Regions from separate parts of the Homo sapiens genome. Here region 1 is linked to region 2. The links come from fine-mapping of genetic effects on gene expression. A gene starts in region 2. The other region holds a variant in brackets. All regions are shown on one strand. Distances are from middle to middle. Region 1 overlaps CACNA2D3 (calcium voltage-gated channel auxiliary subunit alpha2delta 3). Region 2 holds the start of CACNA2D3 (calcium voltage-gated channel auxiliary subunit alpha2delta 3).

Region 1 (2,907 bases), 890 kb after region 2:
ACGCCACTGTTTTTTAACATGATATCAATCTCTCTAGAAGAATAACATTGTCCTTATGTAAAGCCCTAAATTAAGCTACAAATTTTGTGTGCACTACATTGTTTTTAATGAACTGAATTCTTCTCTTCAGCCTTATAATGCCTTCCTCTCTGCAGTAAAATGGATCATGACAGAACTTGTCTTGTAAGTAAAATCTGCTGCATTTTTTTGAAAAGTATTAATATTTTCCTTTTTGTATCATAAAGTGATCTAAGAGATTGTGAGTCATGCCTTCAATAACCATTAGATTCCTAGTACTCTGAGATAACTTCATTGAACATCTCAAAATATTGAACACAGAGACCAAAAAATGATCTTCTATTAAGTGACTGTTGATCACTCCTTATGCTATTAGGTCATCGTTTAGCAGATCATTTGCAATACACAACAAATTTACTTATTGTGGTTACTGCTCAATTTCACATGGATGTCTGGCTGATTTTACTGCAGCCTGGGTGGGCTGTGGTCAGAAGAGCACACTGCTGTGACTGTCCACCATGCCACTTTGGCTGTCTTGGCCTGTGCAGGAATGGGTGCCTGTGAGATTGTCAGCTAGGGCTGGGGGCTTTCTCAGGTATGATTTCATTGTTTATTCTGTCAAACTATGGTCTTGTTTGGAGGTGCTGGTTGCATCTATGACTTAGATAACACTTGAAATGGCACAAAGATGAAAGTCTTGACTTTCAGACTAGATATTAGACACATTACAGAAACACCGTGTCACACAAAAGGGAAGAATTACATAGATGAACATGTAAACAAGATTGTTTAAGTTGTACCAAACTCTCTCATTCTTATTTCCCCTGCTTATTTCCTACAGACTCCAGTTCTGTGGGTTTGAGGCAAATTTCATGCCATTTGATGGATAGTCACTGTCCTCTTAACTTAATGTAACCTATATTAATTTAATAAAGTTTGTGAATTCAAATGGGAAGTAAATTCTCCATATACACATGAGGCAGAGAAAGAACATTAACAGATAATAGTGGGATTTTGATTGAGAGAGAGCTGCTAGGAATAGTAGCCATAAGCCTGAAAAACAAATGACCAAATTTTGATCTCTCTTCATCCACTGGAGGATAATTTATATTATTTTTGTAGTCTTTACCAGCCATTGAGAAATGTTGATTTTTATGAAGTTCCATTGTGACATAATTTCATAGAGAGAAGTCTGTTCCACCTCCCTCTATACACACACACACACACACACACACACACACACACACAGGGGGCTTAAACAAGTTCAAGTCGCAGTATTCATTTTGAAAGCATGTTTTATTACTACAGTTCATAGTCTTGGTAGAGGAGAATATTCTATTTGTATTTCTGAACTAAGGGAAGAGAAGCTTATTAGAAATTGGCTTTTTACTGTGGAATCAAACTAGATGATATTAAGATTGAACAACTGGTGAACAACAACGAGAAAAGTATTTCAGCCTATACAGCAGGTTATTCCTCATCTAGGAATCTTTGAGTCTAGGTGAACCTGGCTTTAGGGATAAAATAGCCTTTCACAAGAAAGATAAACCCCTGTGAAAATTTAGTAGTAACTCAGCCAACTGTGTTGATATCTCCAAATTGTGATGTTCTCAAATGAGGTAAGCGATGCCAAAGAATACAGAAAGTCACTGTTCTGTGATATGGGCATGGATGACGAAGTAACATTGGGCTTTTCCACGATCTGTTTAG[G/T]TTCCTGGTGGAATTTAACCTCTGCAGTTGGTGGCACTCCGATATGACAGCTAAAGGTGAGCAGCAACTGGTTTCTGTTTCCCAGCTTGGAGGGATAAGCGCTGGGTTCACTGGCTACTTTTCATCAGGGATGTGCTGGCTCACAGAAAATTCCCCAGGACAAAGTGATGATTTTTCAGCTCTGTCAGCAAAAAGCCAGCCTTTGTGCTAAGTGCTGTGCTATCTAGTCTGACACAGAATTCCACAGGCTTCATTCAGCCCACGTTGAATGTACATCTTGACCTGTTTCCTTAACTAAGGCTTTGAGGTCATACATTGCACAGGTAAATTCTTCAGAAAGCTCATGGGCAATGCTGAAATAGAAGGGAGACAGACACACTGCCTGTGTCTCAGGCTAAATGAATGATTAGCCATTCTATTTCTGTTTTCACAGTTACCCTCATAGAACATAAATCTGACCACATTACTATCCCTTCTCAAATACCTTTGATGATTTGAGGAGGGTGTAATTAGTAGAGACTCTTGGAGGCATGGGTTGTGGAGTTAGAATAGGTTTCAGTCCCAGCTTAGAGGTTGGCCTTGGGCATATCAGCTGATCTGTCTCCAAGGCTCAGTTTCCCTATGCTAAGCACAATGGGGAAAAATAATATTTATCTTAGCAAGTGAATGTGTGTGTGTGCATGTATGTTTAATGCTGTGAGAAATCATATTACGTGCTGACCACAGTGACTGGAACATAAGTCCTCAAAAAATAGTAGCAATACTGCATGTTCTCATGTATAAGTAAGGTAAACACTGAGTACACATGGACACAAAGAAGGGAACAGCAGACACTGGGGCCTACTTGAGGTGGAGGGTGGGAGGAGGGTGAGGATGAAAAAACTACCTATCGGGTACTACGTTCACTACCAGGATGATGAAATAATCTGTACACCAAACCCTCGAGACATGCAGTTGACCCGTATAAAAAACCTGCATGTACCCTCCACACCTAAAATAAAAGTTGGAAGGAAAATAAATAAATAAAAGAAAGAGTATCCGTAATTATAATGGTGGTGACACTGTGACCATGACAATGATGATGATCGCCTCCAAATCCAGTGATCCTTAATGAACGCTGGCTCCAGCAGTCTGCCCCAGGCCTGCCCACTCATGTGCTATTTCTCAGATACACTCTGT
Region 2 (2,907 bases):
GAACCCAGGTGTCTGGTGCGCCGGGAGCCCCGGCGACGTTAGGAGCGCACTCCTTGCTGGGGTCACCGGAGTTGCGCTTGGCCGGGCAAGGATGACTCAGCCTCACTCCGGTCGGTCTTTACCGCCAGCCTGCGCGAGGGCTCCACAAAGTTCCCAATCACACCCCATACCTCGCACGGGGGAGAGGGGTTCTGCAAGCTGGGTCCCGGGGTGGGGGCAGCGGCGAGAGAGGCGGGGAGAAGCCTGGTTCCCAGAACGCGCAGGGGCTTCTCCGGCTTCCTTTCTCCTCGCCCCTGAGGGCGGCGAGAAGGCGCCTCCTCCGGCGCTCACTGCCTCCTGCCCAGTGCGGTGGGCGCCGGAGTGGGGAGCAGGCAATCCCCCAGGCTCGGAGAAATCTTTTATCCCGAAATCCAGGGTGTCCCCCGGTCAGGATCGACTCGGCGCCGCGTTGGCTTCCTCGCTCAACCCTGACATCCCGGTCCCCACCAGTCACCGCAGCCGGGCGGACTCCGAAGGCAGCGGCCGCTGGGGAGCCCCGGGGCCTGGGTCGGGCGCGCAGGGGGCCGCTGCGCTGCGGCCGGATGCCGGGAGCCCCGCGCTGGTGCGCCCAAGCCGTGGTGGCAGCACCGCCCTCCGTGCTTTCCCCTGTCGGGCGCCGCGGCCGGAGGAGCAGCTGCGGGCGGTCACGCAGCGCTGCCCTAGCCAGAGCCCCGAGCTCCCACCCAGTCCCATCCCCAGCCCGATCCGCCCCGCGTGCGATCCCGCCTGCCGCCGCGAGCCTGTGCTCCTTTCTGAGATTTCTGCTTCTTCCCCAGCTCCCTCCCCGCAGGAGAATCGCGCGGCGGGGGCGGAGGGCGCGCCCCCTTTAGGTTCCGCGGCCCCCGACCCCGCCCGGCCCAGGGGCGGAGCGGGCATGCTACGCCCTCTCCTAGCAGCCGCCCGCAAAGTGCGGAGCGCCGCGCCCTGCCCTCGGCTTCCCTCCCGCGCCCCCAACCCCCACCCTGGCTAGGGTCGCCCGGCCCGGGGCCAGCCCCAGAGTCGCGCCCGCGGTGGCGGACTGCGGAGTTGTAAAGAACTCAGCGGCCGCAGTAGCCCGGGTGGGGCAGGGCGCGCTCCGCCGCGGCCAAGGACACTGGAGTTTCCGAGTCCCCGCCCGCGCGGCGCCTCCTGCCCCGCCGCCCTCCCGCCGCGGCCCGCCGGACTCCCCGGGGCCGCCGAGGCGGGGCCGGGCGGCTGCTGCTGCTAGAGGCGCGTCTCGCTGCCTCCTCCCCCGCCCGCCTCCCTCCCCACCTCTCCTCCCTCCCTCCCCACCTCTCCTCCCTCCCTCTCCTCTCCGCCCTCCCCGCCCCCCCCACCCGCTCCTTTTTCTGCTCCCCAAGTGAGCCGGGCGCGCGAGAGGCAGGCGGGGCGGCGCGGAGCGGAGCAGGCAGCCCCGCGCGCTCGCCCACCGCCCGCTCCGCGCAGCTCCCCGCGGCCGCTCTCGTCGCCGCCGCAGCGGGCGCGTCGGAGGGAGCCCAGCATGGCCGGGCCGGGCTCGCCGCGCCGCGCGTCCCGGGGGGCCTCGGCGCTTCTCGCTGCCGCGCTTCTCTACGCCGCGCTGGGGGACGTGGTGCGCTCGGAGCAGCAGATACCGCTCTCCGTGTAAGTGCCGGCTCCTGCGCCGCCCGGGGAGGGGACCTTGCCGCCTGCGACCCACTGTGCCCAAGTTTGGGCGCCTGCAGGTGCGGCTGGGCAGGACCCGCCGCGGGCGTCGGCCTCGCCGCTCGCACCTGCCTTTCGGGACCCGCGTCGGGCGGCGAGGCCGGGGTGGGATGCTCTGGCCCCTGCCCGCAGGTTGCCGAGTGAGATCTGGAGAGGCTCACCTCAAGTGACGGCACCAACTTTGGAGCCTGGTTACCGAATCCAACTTCCATGGGCCGCTGAATTTCCCCCCTCTTTGCTCTACTGCCGCCCCACTTCTTTTTTTGGGGGGGGGATGGGTGGATTTCTTCTGACTGCTATTTGCCAGGTGATGCCCAGTTTGGGGGGTCGAGTCCTCGGGCAGTGGTTCGAATGAAACTCAGTGGTCTTTTTAGAGAGCCTGGGAGACTTTGCGCATTCTTAACTCCGCGACCCCCCTCGGGCCCCCTCCCGCGCTGCGCTTTGCAGTTTTGGTGCTGGCAGTTTCTACCAAGCCGCTTTTTCTATCTTTTCTTCTTTTAAAACATGTTACATCGCACTGCTCCTTCAGCCATAGTCCCATGTGTGCGTGTGCGTGTGCGTGCGTGTTGACTGTGACACGGGTGTTACATATCTTCCTGTGCCCCTTCTCCCTGTAGGGTGAAGCTCTGGGCCTCGGCTTTTGGTGGGGAGATAAAATCCATTGCTGCTAAGTACTCCGGTTCCCAGCTTCTGCAAAAGGTAAGGTTTCTGTGGTGGCAGGAAGCGATGATTTTTCCGGCACAGAAAATGGAGGCAGATTTAGTTTTCCAAACAAACGTGAGCCCCGAGCAGCATCAGTTATCGGAGGACTCTCTGATCCCCGGGTTTCTTGGCATTGTACTATGCAGTGACTTCTTCCTACCAACCGGTTATTTTTAGATGACACTTGATTCTAACCACAAAGAAAAGCAGGATACTCACTCGCACTGTCCTGGCTGGGGCTCGGAAACTGAGTGTTTTTGCATGGCTCTCGTCTCCGTGTCGGTATTGCTGTTTCAGTGCCAGAGCAGATGCTCCTCGGGCCAAAAAATGCTAACTTCATCCAAGGGGCAGACTCAGTGCCTATTTTGTGATGCCTTTCACCTTGCGTTGGAGGCGTGGGGTTCAGTGTATCAGAGAAAGACGCTGCACTATTGTTTGTCATCCCTGCAGTTGTACAATCCCATTATTCCCCAATCATCTAGACCCAGGGCTAGGATGCATTAC

Evidence for each region. PIP is the estimated chance that this variant, and not a neighbour inherited with it, causes the effect.
Region 1: its variant is fine-mapped to the expression of CACNA2D3 in whole blood (TOPMed, PIP 0.98).

What each region holds. Positions count from the first base shown.
Region 1 is chr3:55,007,660-55,010,566 of GRCh38, forward strand. It overlaps CACNA2D3 (calcium voltage-gated channel auxiliary subunit alpha2delta 3), which reads left to right. Exons shown (of 38, transcript NM_018398.3): 33 at 131-183; 34 at 1,729-1,784. Among named protein-coding and RNA genes, the nearest start is that of LRTM1, 81 kb to the left of the region's middle. The variant G/T (reference allele first, on the strand shown) is at 1,729.
Region 2 is chr3:54,121,195-54,124,101 of GRCh38, forward strand. CACNA2D3 (calcium voltage-gated channel auxiliary subunit alpha2delta 3) reads left to right here and starts at 1,358. Exons shown (of 38, transcript NM_018398.3): 1 at 1,358-1,641; 2 at 2,319-2,400. The coding sequence starts at 1,520. LOC124909381 (a long non-coding RNA gene) reads right to left here and starts at 2,248. Exons shown (of 2, transcript XR_007095914.1): 1 at 1,863-2,248. RefSeq lists a silencer at 115-164.